Linked DNA regions of Homo sapiens. The main gene of each other region encodes a partner of the protein of the gene in region 2 in a complex. Each region holds a gene or a part of one and is shown on either strand. Other genes may lie near its edges.

Region 1 (7,039 bases), on a different chromosome or scaffold from region 2:
TGTGTGCTCCGAGAGGGGCCAGGGCAGCGGCACTCACCGTACTCCTCTCCCCGCAGGATTTCGGGGGCGATGTAATTCGGGGTTCCGCAGAAAGTGCTCGTTGTGTCACCAGGGCCCAGGCCTTCCTGTGGGGGCAAAGTTACTGGGAGAGGGTTCTTGTAGACACTACCCCGCGGGACAGGCGCCCCGAGACGCACATGCGGGATGGTCAGGGGAGGCGGTCCAAGGCACGCACCTTGCACATGCCGTAGTCTGTGAGCTTGATGTGCCCGTCCGCATCCAGGAGGACGTTGTCCAGCTTCAGGTCCCTGTAGATGATCCCCCTCTCGTGCAGGAAGTTGAGGGCGATGCAGATCTCGGCCGCGTAGAACCTGGGGGTGGGGATGCCGTCATGGGGGCAGTGCCTGTGCCAGAGGCTGCGCCAACAGCTCCAGCCTGGGGGCCACACACTCCCGTTTGCCCCACCACGGGCCCGGCATCCTCTCAATGACCAGGCCCAGGATTTGAAAGTGCAGTGCACAGGGCCAGGGAGGGAAATGCCAATGAAAGCTCCAGGACACCACCCCATGCGCCTTAGGATGGCCTGCTGTCAAAGACACAGAGAACGATGTGGCAGCCTCCACAAGGGGAGGAGCGGGCAAATAACACGACAGCTTCCATGCGGGAAAGACCGGAGCCATGGCACGTTGTGGTAGGAGTGCAGAACAGCGCCGCTGCTGCGGAAGACAGTCCGGCAGGTCCTCGAAAATTAAACACGGTGCCAGGCTTGGTGGCTCACACCTGTAATCCCAGCACTTCGGGAGGTCGAGGCAGGCAGATCACCTGAGGTCAGGAATTCAAGACCAGCCTGGGCAACATGGCGAAACTCCGTCTCTACTAAAAATACAAAAAAATTAGCCGGGTATGGTGGCGCACACCTGTAGTCCCAGCTACTCTGGGGGCTGAGGCAGGAGAATCACTTGAACCTGGGAGGCAGAGGCTGCAGTGAGCTGAGATCCCACCACTGCATTCCAGCCTGGGTGACAGAGCGAGACTCCATCAAAAAAAAAAAAAAATTAAATATGACCTTTTTTTTTTTTTTTTTGAGACAGAGTTTCACTCTGTCACCCAGGCTGGAGTGCAATGGCGCGATCTTGGCTCACTGTAAGCTCTGCCCACAGGTTCACGCCATTCTCCTGCCTCAGCCTCCCGAGTAGCTAGGACTACAGGCGCCCGCCACCACACCTGGATAATTTTTTGTATTTTTAGTAGAGACAGGGTTTCACTGTGTTATTTCACCGTGTTAGCCAGGATGGTCTCGATCTCCTGACCTCGTGATCCGCCCGCCTTGGCCTCTCAAAGTGCTGGGATTACAGGCGTGAGCCACCACGCCCGGCCTAAATATGGAATTCTTATGTGGTTAGCAATTCAGTTTCTGGGTGTATACCCCAAAGAACCGGAAGCAGGGTGTTCAAGAGATTACTTCACACCCATGTTCACAGCAGCACTGTTCACCATGGCCAACATGTGGATGCCACTCAAGTGCCCCCCGAGGGATGGACGGATAAGCAAAGTGTGGCCCCTCCATCCAACGGGGCATTATCCAGCCTGAAAAAGGAAGGCAATTCTGAGACAGGCCACAGCACGGATGAATCTTGAGGACGCTATGCTCAGGAAAATGAGCCACCGAAGGACCAACACTGTGATTCCACTCCGATGAGGTCCCTAGAGTCCTCGAATCAGAGGGACAGAAAGTGGGACGTGCCCGTCTGGGGTGAGGATGTGAGGCTGGGGCGGGGGACAGGGAGGGAGTGTCTGATGGGCCAAGCTTCAGCAGGGAAGAGGGGCGTGCTCTGGAGATGAGACGGGGGCCAGCAGTGGCTGCAAAGCATGGGGTGCATTCAACGCCACTGAATTCCATGCCCCAAAATGCTACCTTTTATGTTGTGTGTTGCCACAGTTTTTAAAAACAGCGTTGTGGGAAGTGTACTGTTCTAGATTTATTGCCTACTGTCCTATTGCCAGAAACAATCTAAGGTGACTCACAAAACTGCATGCAACGTTCTTAAGTAAGGAAATGAGGAAAAGGAGAAACTACAAAAGACAGGAAAGGTCCAGGGAGCTGAAATAAGCCCCCAAACGGTCCTGGAGGTCCCGCGGCTGCCGGGGGAGGCTCCTGAACCATGCTGGAGGCCCCTCGGCTGCCAGGGGAGGCCCGAAGATATCAGAGATGAAAGGGAAGGGCAGGAAGGAGTCTCTCAGGTCACTCTAGAAACAGACCACTCTCGTTCTGCTCCTAACGCTGAGGAAATGCTGGCCATGCTGTGCCACTAACAGGGTGAAGAGCAGAACCAGGGCAGAGCCACCATGAAGACAGCACAATCCCAGGAGACTCTCACTTCTCTCGGATGAGGCATGGTGCTGCTTCAGGGGTGGGGCCTGGGGGACTGGTCTGAGGCACCATAACTCAGGAGACCTCCCAAATGTTGTGACTCTGGAGCAAATATGGAATGTGTCACAATGCAGGGGACGTCACACTGTGGGGGACATGATGCCCTCTGCCATCCTACCTGGACTTCCCTCCCTTGAGCTCCCTGCTGACCCCTGGAGAAGGTCCCCGGCCCCCTCCACGTGCACCCCGCCCCCCCCGCCCCCGTCATACCCCCTCCGTGCACACCCCACCCAGCCACCTCCCCTCTGCGCACACCCACCCGGCCCCCCAACTCCGCGCGCACCCACCCGTCATCCCTCTGTGCGCACCCACCCAGCCCCCCAACACCGCACGCACCCACCCATCCCCAACTCCGGGCGCACCCACCCGGCCCCGTCCACGCGCACCCACCTGGCGTGCTCCTCAGGGAGCTTCCTCTGCCTCTGCATGTGGAACATCAGGTCCCCGCCGTTGACGTACTCAATGACCAGGAACAACCTGCAGGGAGAGAGGCGCCGGAGGCTGCAGTCACCTCGGCAGACGGCGGCCTCCTTAGACAGAAGCCCCACAGAAGCGGCCTTCGTGGGCCCGAACCCTCCCGCAGGTTCAGTCTTGCAAAGAGCAAAGAGCAGCAGGAGCACCCTGGCAGCAGAGAGGGGCTGGTGGGGACGGGCTGCGGGGCCGCTCGTGAAGGGTGCAGGTGAGGGAGTCATGCGGGGGCCTCGCCGGCCTTCACTCTTGGCCACTGTGTGTGGACTTGGGAAGTGTGGGTGGGCCCCGGAATGAAGGAGGTGGCCCGTCACCAGGTGGGAGTGGAGGTGGCTTGGACCAGGGCTGGGGGCTGGGACAGGATCTGCTGGGGGCTGGAGCGAGGCAGTTTCTTGCATGGGGACAGCACCGCAGGTCACGGGTGGGGTGGCCTCAAGGCCTGATTTCATTGCTGCAAGGCTGAGGAGTCCACCGGCCCTCCAAGGGAACAAGCTGGGGTCAGGGAGAAGCCAGGTGGGAAGTGGCATCCCGGTTTCGCAGACATGATCGTATGATTTTAAAAGATCCGCAGATGTCATCAGGACCACGCAGGCCCTTCCCGTCTCAGGGACTGGGCCACATGGTTTCTCTTCCTAATAAGATCTTTTCCTACATTTCATGAGACTCAATTTTCAAAATTAAATTCTCATACAATCTCCCAGAAATACCCTGTGGCGGGTTTTTTTAGGTCAGCGGCTCCTCTGGCACCTGAATTGTTTATTTGCTTCCGACTGGTGGCTGCTCCTGGCTGCCCCTCGTGGAGCGGGGAGTGAAGGAGGGAAGCGTGTGGTGACTCTGCCCGTTTCCTTCGATCCCACGCAAGCTCCCACACCACCGCCACTGTTACGCCTCAAGGCACCTGTCCCTGCTCCTGCCCTCCACAAGCTCCCAGAATTAAGCCAGAGAGGACAGAGGCCAGTTTACACAGGGCAGGTGAACTGGCTGCAAATCATCTGTGAAGTTTCTGATTGGAAACAAACTCCTAAAAATCGAAAGAGCCCTGGGCCCCAAGTGAGGAGCTGGAGAGACGTCCACGTGGCCAGTCGGGCACCCTGAAGAATAAGCCGTGCCTTTGGGGAGCGGCTGGGGAAGGCTCGTTCCTCGGCTTTTGTTGTCTCCCCTGCCTCCAACGGATGTGCCTGGAAATTCTCTGGTAACCTGGCCCTTGTCCTTGGGGACTCGCTGGTCCACTGCTCCCTGTTTTGTAAATAAAGTTTTATTGGAACGAGGCTATGCTCACTGGTGCATCTATTTTCTATGTCTGCTTTCCAGCCACCGTGGCAGAGGGAGTTGCTAACAGAGACCCTGTGGCCGCAAAGCCAAAAATGTCTACTCTTGGGCCCTTCAAGAAAAAGTTTGCCAATCCCCGGTATAAACAAAATAGCAATGACAGAAAGAGCAGCTCTGAGGGTGCCCTCGATGTGCAGGAACGTCCTCAGTGCACCCGTGGAGGGACTCGTTCAGTAACGTCAACCCCACGGAACGAAGCTCCATGAAGGCCTCCAACCCCTGGAGGACACCCACGACCTAAGAGTCGGTCAGAAAACGTTAAGAAAGAATTTATTCAAAACCCTTAGAGTGCCTGGGCGTGGTGGCTCACGAGGCCTGTAATCCCAGCATTCTGGGAGGCCAAGGCAAGCAGATCACCTGAGGTCAGGAGTTCGAGACCATCCTGGCCAACATGGTGAAACCTCATCTCTACTAAAGATACAAAAATGACCCAGGGCTGGTGGTGTGCACCTGTAATCTCAGCTACTCGGGAGGCTGAGGGCAGGAGAATCGCCTGAACCCAGGAGGCACAGGCTGCAGTGAGCTGAGATTGCGCCACTGCACTCCAGCCTGGGCGACAGAGCAAGACTCTGTCTCAAAGAATAAAATAAAAATACAAAAAACCACAAAAACCCTTAGGGTGACTTCACCGCACATTTTTTGCCACCAGGAGTTACACGCCCCAATGGGTGCTGGTCCCTTCCACCTGTCCCCCCGAGAGGAGCCACGTTCACCCCAACAGTGCTGCTGCGGCGCCTGGGAAGGGCCTCCACGGCCTCTGTGGGTTCATCCTAACTTTAAGCTATCACGGCCCATAGGACGGGGACAAAGCCAATGCCATTTCCAGAGAAAATAAAGAAATACATGAATTCTAGAGAAAAGCATCAATACAATGCCTCAGGAGGCTGAGAGAATTTGGGGGACATTTAAACACTTAGAGAGGTAGAGGCGGAGGCCGCTTCCCCTTCTTCTCCAGAGAAAAGCCAATCACGGGAACTGTGCTGAAAGCCAGTTCTCTCTGCCCAAGGCCTAGGACCCAGGCAGCTTGCTGAGGAAGGAATTTATTTAATTTGCAACTGCTCAAGCTGCAATGATGGTGGGGTTTTTTTGTCTACAGAAAAACCTTAATGCTACTTTTGACATTTCTTCAGAGCAAAAACCCACCAGGACAATCTGGTGTCAATTCACTCTAAGGCGACTCTGCGTGACACAAGCTGAGCTGGCTGCTGACAAGATGCCTGGGACCATGGCTGAGCATGCTCCGAGCCCACTCCTCTCCTCACGCTGGTGGTGTGCACCTGTAATCCACATGGGCTCGGCCCACTTGGGTGCCCCACAGGCGCTGTCCTGCATAGAGGCTCTCAGGCAGGGGCGCAAGGCCAGGCCAGGGGCGTGTGTGGCTTCACCCGTAGCCCCTCAGTGACACACACAGTCCTGACCCCAAGGGATGCTGGGAAGCACAGCCTGGGGGTGGGGGTGGGGGGCTGAAGGTGCCCCTCCATGTCCTGGTAGCCACACTCGCCATGTCGTGGCCTGGGGGGGGCTGAGGCTGCCCCTCCGTGTCCTGGTAGCCACACTCGCCATGTCGTGGCCTGGGGGAGGGGGCTGAGGCTGCCCCTCCGTGTCCTGGTAGCCACACTCGCCATGTTGTGGCCTGGAGGCGCTGGGGATGCCCCTCCCTGCTCCCTGTCCTGGCATTAACGCTCCTCTCATGTTTGCAAGGGGAGAGGAGCAAGCAGAGCCCAGATGGGAGGCGGGAGGCGGGAGTCATGAGACACGTGCCCTCGGGGCTGTTTTTCTGAGACAAGATCTCACTCTGTCACTCAGGCTGGAGTGCAGTGGTGTGATCATGGCTCACTGCAGCCTCGACCTCCCAGGCTCAGGCAATCCTCCGGCTTCAGCCTCCCGAGGAGCTGGGACCACATGCTTGCACCACCACCGCCAGCTAATTTTTAAATTTTTTGTAGAGAAAGGGTCTCGAGATATTTCCCAGGCTGGTCTTGAACCCCTGGCCTCAAGTGATCCTCCGGCCTCAGCCTCCCAAAGGGCTGGGATTACAGGTGTGAGCCACTGCACATGCCTGTCCATGATACTTAATCAAATACACAAACGTGAAGAACGCCAGCAAAAATGGATTCATCAACAACCAAAGACAAAGTGCAGCTCTCAGGAACCAGGCGAGACGCAGACCGCAGCCGGATCCAGTCCCTGACCCTGCCCTGGAACCGGCACCATCCAACAGACATGGGAAATGGAGGGACAGTGGCCGCAGGGGGATGCTGGAAGCTCACGAAACCTCCTAGGGGGCGGCCGGGGGCTGAGGGAAGCTCACAAAACCTCCTAGGAGGTGGGCCCTGTCCTTGGTGCCGCCCCCTCCTCGCCACTCCCCCCACCCCTTCCAGGAATGCAAGGTGCCCGGCTCAGAGGGAGGAACCACAGCCCTCTCCTGGAGGCACAGGAGACGCTGCCCTGAGAGTCAAGAATTAACCAGATGGGTCCGGGCGGGCCACCACCATGTGTGTACAGAAAGTTCTGGTGGAACACGGCCACACGCGTCCCTTCACGCAGTGTCTAAGGCTGCTTCTGTTTTAGAACGCATAGTTGCCACAGAGGCCGCATGGCCCACAAAGGTGGAAATATTTACTGCCTGACCCTTTAAGACAACCTTTGCTGACCGCTGGTGTGGCCCTCAGTAAGCGTCAGTCTCCAAGTCCCTCTGTGTTAACGCACTTGACCCCATCACCAGGAAGTAAGTTCAGCTCTCGCCATTTTACAGATGGGGAAGCCGAGGCACAGACAGGTTAGGGGACGTTCTCCGGCTCACACAGCTCC
Region 2 (7,039 bases):
CAAAATAGACTAAATTGTGGAAGGTTTAAATGGTTTACATATCAACAGTTATTAATCTAAGAAGAAACAGCAATCTTCTCAAAGACAGATGAAAGTTAATATGTAAATATGACTGCTAAAAGTTTTTAAATCAATGTAAATCTTTGAATAGGAAATTCACTACATGAAGAAAGAAAAAAACTTCTGTTAAGACCCACAGTACCTCAAAACTCAAGTATTATTGTGCAATAATGACATCCAAATTTTAAGGGTAGGAGGTATGAGCAAGGGAAACAAAAATGTCCAGGGAGATGGAAAAGAACAGTGAAATGAGAGGTATCTCTAGATAGAGGTAATGGAACCTCCCAAAATCATAATTATTCAAAGCAGTTTACTAAGAGGATAAACCATAAACCAAATTATCTTTGCCTAGTTCACTTCTAATTCACCTAAATCTTACCATGTATATTTCCTTCACCACCCCCCACTCCCAAACAAGGCAAATTACTCAGTGAAGACTCCATCTCAGATCATGGCTACCAAATCTGGGGATCATATTATGCTTAAAGGTACTAAATTAATGATGCATTTATAAATTACTCTGATGATTCACAGAATTTAAATTCTCATTTCTTTGGCAGCTTTCTTGACAGACAGTCTTACATGCTCAATACAAAGCAGAAAAGTGTTTATATGTCACTAGAATCAAGACGCAAGAAGCCAACACGTGCCCAGGAAAAACTGGGGAGATAATGATACATTTGTAATGAATCACAACATTTTTACAATAATGATTTCTACCTAAGCTTTTTTAAAAAGTTACTTCTTAAGATATTAGTTTCCATTTCAGTTAAAATATTGTTAAGGCAAATGCTTGCTCATTATGGGAAGAATAAAGAGATCTGTAAAGGTGAAAAATCTAGAAAAGAGCACATTAATCTGATACATCACTCAGTATAAAACTGTAATGAAAAGTATAAAATATAAGTGAACAAAAAAGGGTGAATAAAAATGTAGATTAAAGAAACATTAAAGGAGAAATAAAGAAAACACTCCATAGTTATTCCTGTAGCAAAACCTACCATAGTTATTCTCAACATCAAACAAAGCATTCATTTACTTTAGTCTGAAGTCACTTTAGGGTGCTTGGACTATTAATATTTCTGATGTCTTCCATGCTGAACACCTGAATGGCATACTGTCTATATGAAATGTTTGTTATTGCTCTGGGGAGATTTTTCCATATGTCTCTGCTTTCATGAAACTCTAATGACTTGCAATAACATTTATTAAGAAAGAATTCTTAATTACTCTCCTTTTGCAATACTAACTTTTTTGAACTATGAATGCTGACTGTTGTAGGAACCTCAATACTATTAAAATATCAGCAACAACCCCTAAATCTGTAAGCTAAAAGTTCAGGCAATGACCTTTCAAGGAAAGATAAGTAGATATCAATTTTCATTTAACAAAGCCAACAAAACATTCTGCACTGACTGAAACAGATTACTGACCTTCTCCTCTGACTTTATTAAAAAGCTAATTTCTACAAAAGAGCTGGGTATTTGAGAATACCAAAATGGCAATAAATATTAAGAAATCATAATTATGGAAGCAAGTACACTGAGGCTATTCTGTTGTCATGTTATATAACATAGCTCCAAAATTAGGCCAAAGAATAATTATACTGACATCTTTTTTTGTACTAAGAGTTGATTCCAGTTTTTGAAGAACTGCTGCCACTCAAAGCACATTAGCTCACTTTGAACTGAATCTGAAGTTTAACACTGACACACCCTATGTTTTTAATGTACTTCACTAATAAATGTAATAACTTGTAAGAAAAAAATCTGCTAGCTACAAGGAAAGCCTGTTCAATTCTCCTACATTCATTATTATTAAAATATATGCATTTAGTCCTAATCAAAGATAATCAGCATTCTTCCCCACATTTATAGTAAACATAATTTTTATATAAAATATTTGTAAGTATTGGCAGCATGCACAAGCAGCATGTGCTTTTTGTCATACATTCTCACAGTTGGTAAATTAAAATCAAGATAGATCTATGGGACTCTATATCATTAAGATTACTCAAGGTCTGAAAAACACTTAAAACCATTGTTTCTCCTTTCAGTGATTAAGCATAGTCTTTCTAAATTAGCTTGTGTAAATGCAATCATATTTTTCATTAAATGCTATTAAAATAATATCTGTATTCAAAACAATGGTACCAGTTTTGTAAGTAAAATGTATCAATTTGATTTATTTATCACTTCAGACTTACTATAACATAAAAATTAGATATACTCATTATTTTCCTTTTTTTGGAGAATCTGTATTCTGTTTAATACTTTACCTTTATCTTCTCACTTCAGATTTCCTTTGTATTTCTCATTCTTTCATTAGCAAAACAATGGTACTTTTAATGGCAAATCACCTCATTTAAAAAGTTCATGTTATATCATGATTTGTCAAATATCCTAATTTTTGAAAAACCATAATTAACTAAATGAATATTGCTGTATCAGTGTAAAAAGGAAAAGATATTTATGAACCAGTATCTTTATGACAATGGTGAAGCAAAATACTGTACCTTTGTTTAGAGATATCAAGCAGAATTTTATTTTTTATACGATTCTATTTGTAGTTCTTGATATGTTTTTGGTTAAAAACAAGGGCCTGTCATTTAAGTAGAGCAAAAGGAGGAAAGAGGATGTGATATTTCTCTCATTTAGGAATTGACAGAGCTAAAGGGGTTTCTGTTGATATGACTCTGTGTTTGCAACGAGGCAAGCTGTCAACTCCTGATCATGTCAACCAAGTATTTAGAGCTTAAAAACCAGTAACCAGAAATAAGAAACTTGAGGTTCACATAAAGTTCACTGAAAGAATATGAGTTAGAAAGGAAACAGCAGTCTCAGAGTTTACAACCTTGTAAATGCTACCCCAAATGTAAAGAAGAATGGTCTGAATATCCGGATATGGAAAACATACTAGTAAGAATCTGTGGCCAACAGCCACATGACCTGAGGAAATAATGAACCTCTCTTGGAATCATTTCCATCCAACTATAAGAGTTGATGGTTGAGCCTATAAAAAAAAATATTCTTTATAATAATACCATTTTGAAAGACATGATTTAAAAATATATCAAAATGCTCAGCTAAAATGGATCAGGAACAGTAAAAGTGTATCTTGGTGCCTGGACGAAACATTGGGTGAAAATCATAAAGTCAAGTCCAATAGTTTGCACTCAACTTTGAAGGAGGCAAACTGCAAGAACATGCTCTCTATACAGAGATCCACTGTATACAGGAAGGGTACTAAAATACATAATGGATGGAAGATGTATGAAGAATCGGCAATCGACATCATGACTTCCACATCACCATAAGAAAGAGAAGCAGGCCTGGACATGGTGGCTCACTTCCATAATCCCAGCACTTTGGGAAGCCGAGGTAGAAGGACTACTTGAGGCCAGGAGTTCCAGATCAACCTGGGCAACATGGCAAGACTCCAACACAACAAAAAATTTGTAAATGAGATGGGCATGGCGGCATGTGCCTCTAGTCACAGCACTTGGAAGGCTGACATGGGGTGTTGCGGGCTACGGTGAGCTATGACTGCACCACTGCACTGTAGCCTGGGCAACAAAGAAAGGCCCTGTCTCAAAAAAAAAAAAAAAAAAAAAAAAAAAAAGAAAGAAAAAGAAAAGAGAGGAAAAGAAAAGAAAAAAAAGAAAGGGAAGTAATGCAATAATACAAGAAAACAAAAGACAAGAGTCAATGGCCTGGCTTCTCAGCAACCTACTATAAACTCCTGGCAGCCTCAAACAAATTGGTCCCTCCCCACATCAAATACTGAGATTGACGTGCACTACCTCTAAAGTCCTCCTTGAGGGCTGGACTTATACAGCAAATGGGGCAGTCAAAATGGTCAAATCCTTACTATTGTTCTGCATTTGATATTAATGTCCTGAAGCCATTTTCTTTCACAATCAAAAATTTTACTACAGTAACTGCTATCTTCTTCTCATAGACATAGTCTTATTCTCTGCACTTTTACATTTTAATTTCTACAGAGCAAAATAAACCTGAGACATATAAGAAATACAATTTGAAATATGTTAAAAGGTAAGTAACTTTAAAAAATCTATCAGTTCTTTCACAAAATAATTAGATAAGACTCAGGGTGCTTTGGGTTAGTAGGTTGACTTTTAAAATAAATTCCATTTCTACCCTTGTGTGTTGCTGCTAAGAAAAGAAATTCCACAAAACAAAAACAGGATAGGTCGTACCTTTCTTAAGCTGGATATTAAGCCTCTTGCCTATTTTTTTGGTGTTATAACCACTGCTTACAGTCGTACTAAATACATTCTGAGGTGCCGAGGCTGGAGCGGATGGTGGTTTTCCCGAGGGGTGTGCGCTATGAGGTAGTCTTGAGTGAGAGTCTATCTGCTCAGGCGGGTGGTTCAGTCGGGGTGCTCTCTGCACCGTGTGAAGCCCTGCACTGTTCACACTCCTGTTGTCAATATACTGGCTGTCAGGGCTAAAACGGCTTGAATAGTAATTGTTCTTCTCACTTTGGGATAGTTGTTCATACTGCTCTTTATTTGCTGCAGGAACCACATGGAACCAAATGATGGGTGTACGCATGGCTTGGCGAAACATATGTTGTGCTCTGGGTTTGAGAAAGAATAGAAAATTAGCAAATTAAGACTGGCAGACTAGAAGATATTATGAGCTTAATTAAGTTTACTAATTAAGCAATAAGAACTGACAGGCTGTTGAAATTGAAAAGCAAAATTCTAATAACCCATTTATCAATCAAGTTTGCAGCTCTGATCTATCAATAGCTGTTTCTTCAAATATAAATTTCTCATTCTCTCAATAAAAATAGAAAAATTATCTACAACTACAGATAAAATTCTGTCCTCTCAACTGTAAATCATTAAACATGTTTTAAGTATAACAAGTATTATAATTTCAATAATAGAAACCAAATGGAACATTCTCTCTACAACATTGTCTAATACAACTTGTAGACATTACAAAATACTTCAATTTAAGTTTTCAAAGAAAGACAGAGCTTTATAATTATATTTAGAATATTGGATTGGGTTAGATGTGTATTTAAAATTTTTAAAATACACACACACACACACACACACTTAGAAGACTATAGAAAGTAACTATTAATTATTTATTAAGTTGGTATATGTAAAAATCTCAAGAACAGCAATCCAGGCTCAATAATTCAAAATGTTGACAGCTGTGGGTCACAGTGCACCCATACAACCAGCCTGGGAAGCAGCTCTTTCTCATGCTGGTTCCCTGGTCAGGACCTCAAGTTCTTAAGAGTTCTGTTTGCTCCTGCCTTGTTTTATAAGAACTGGCCAACTGTTATGTTTTTCATTGACTAAGGGCCTGAATCAAGATAAAGTGTATCTGAATACAACCCAATATTGTATCTGAATACAACCCAAGATAAAGTGTATCTGAATACAACCTCAAGCAGATACAAACAGCTTTATCTGCTTGTTTGTATCTAGAGAAACTGTGTGCAGCAAAGGTGGACGGGTGAGTTAAAGTATGATAAAAATGGGCACACTGTCAATTTTCCAAAAGGAGAGGAACCAGCAAAATTGTAAAGTTGAAATGGGGGCCATAATACTTAAGAAGAGCTATATCCATCAGAGGACATTTTGAAATATAGTCTAATGGTATTAATTACTGAGTATGTTTAAATTTTTAAAAGCTAATGGCAGAAAATATTCCTCTCCAGTATACAGACTGAGATCACAGACATGTTTGAAGCATTTCAACTGACTGCACTCTGTCATGCCTAATGCAAGTAAGAACAGAAGTGCAGCGAGCACACACTTACTGTTCAAATCTTCTATTTCGAAGGTCGCCATCATTAATCCTGACAATGCAATCATTCTCACGAAAAAGATTTTCATGTTCAGCTTTACCACCTTTCTCCAATCGTTTTACTAATAACCCCAGGGTTCTGGAACATTAAGAATGCAAATGATTACACATGTAATATCTCCACCATGCACACTGCCTTACCACTTTAATGCTGTTATTATATTTACAAAGATGTCCTTACAAAGGAGCATGTTAAAATGACTATTCATACATTTTTAAATGACAGACAAAAACCACAACGTTAAAATGACATGTAAAAATGCATCCCTTCCATAAATGTAAAAAATCAGTTTCTGGCTGGTCAGTATTATGTTTCTAGAACAAGCTATAACACTCTCTCTGTTTACAAATGCCCCAAACAGAGCCCGCCTAATGGTTGAGTGGGTATTGCAGTGTGGAGGATGGATAAGCATGTATTTTTGAATGGCTTGGGCAATTTTCTGTTTTAAGCCAGCTGGCACGCTAGCTTAAAAGACGACTGCAACTCCCATCTTTCTGTGAAAGTAAAGGTAATGAGGAAAAGCTAACCTCATTGCACTGCAGGTTTGAGAATGATAATAGGAAAGATTTCAGGAATAAAGGAGTTTCCATGCTTTGCATTTGAATTTGATAGTGCTTAGTATTGTGAATTTCAAAACCTGTCAGGTCTCCCAAAAGTAAGTCATTTATTGTCAATATTCCCATTTGGAAAAACAAATGACCCAACAGAAAAACGTCAGTGAGAGGTTCAAATAATGCCAATCACCATTCATCTCTTCCACATATGTACTCACTCAGGTTGAAAGAAAAGTGTGAATGACCTTTGAGAGACCCCCTACTTGCTCTAGAACACTAACTTCATAACTGACAGGACATTCTATACAGACTGGGACAAATAAGAAATACTTCTTTAAATCACAGTATAAGCAACAGGGGTCTTAACCTAGCTCTGATTGCTGTTATTTTTATTTTTTTAGTCTTATTTTATTCTTTTTTGAGATGGAGTTTCGTTCTTGTCGTCCAGGCTGTAGTGCAATAGCATGATCTTGGTTCATTGCAACCTCCACCACCTGGGTTCAAGCGATTCTCCTGCCTCAGCCTCCTGAGTAGCTGGGATCACAGGCATGCGCCACCATGCCCAGCTA

What was found. The genes of interacting proteins can lie anywhere in the genome.
Region 1: PARD3 (region 2) and PRKCZ share a complex: the UniProt entries of both Homo sapiens proteins name them as parts of the par polarity complex.

The regions. Positions count from the first base shown.
Region 1 is NC_000001.11:2,165,387-2,172,425, reverse strand, and holds part of PRKCZ (protein kinase C zeta type), read right to left. Parts: intron 4,136-7,039; coding exon of another isoform or gene 3,859-4,135; exon of another isoform or gene 2,976-3,858; intron 2,933-2,975; coding exon of another isoform or gene 2,909-2,932; coding exon 2,822-2,908; intron 372-2,821; coding exon 236-371; intron 126-235; coding exon 38-125; intron 1-37. UniProt on the Homo sapiens protein: Calcium- and diacylglycerol-independent serine/threonine-protein kinase that functions in phosphatidylinositol 3-kinase (PI3K) pathway and mitogen-activated protein (MAP) kinase cascade, and is involved in NF-kappa-B activation, mitogenic signaling, cell proliferation, cell polarity, inflammatory response and maintenance of long-term potentiation (LTP).
Region 2 is NC_000010.11:34,378,261-34,385,299, forward strand, and holds part of PARD3 (partitioning defective 3 homolog), read right to left. Parts: intron 5,995-7,039; coding exon 5,869-5,994; intron 4,663-5,868; coding exon 4,280-4,662; intron 1-4,279. UniProt on the Homo sapiens protein: Adapter protein involved in asymmetrical cell division and cell polarization processes. Seems to play a central role in the formation of epithelial tight junctions. Targets the phosphatase PTEN to cell junctions.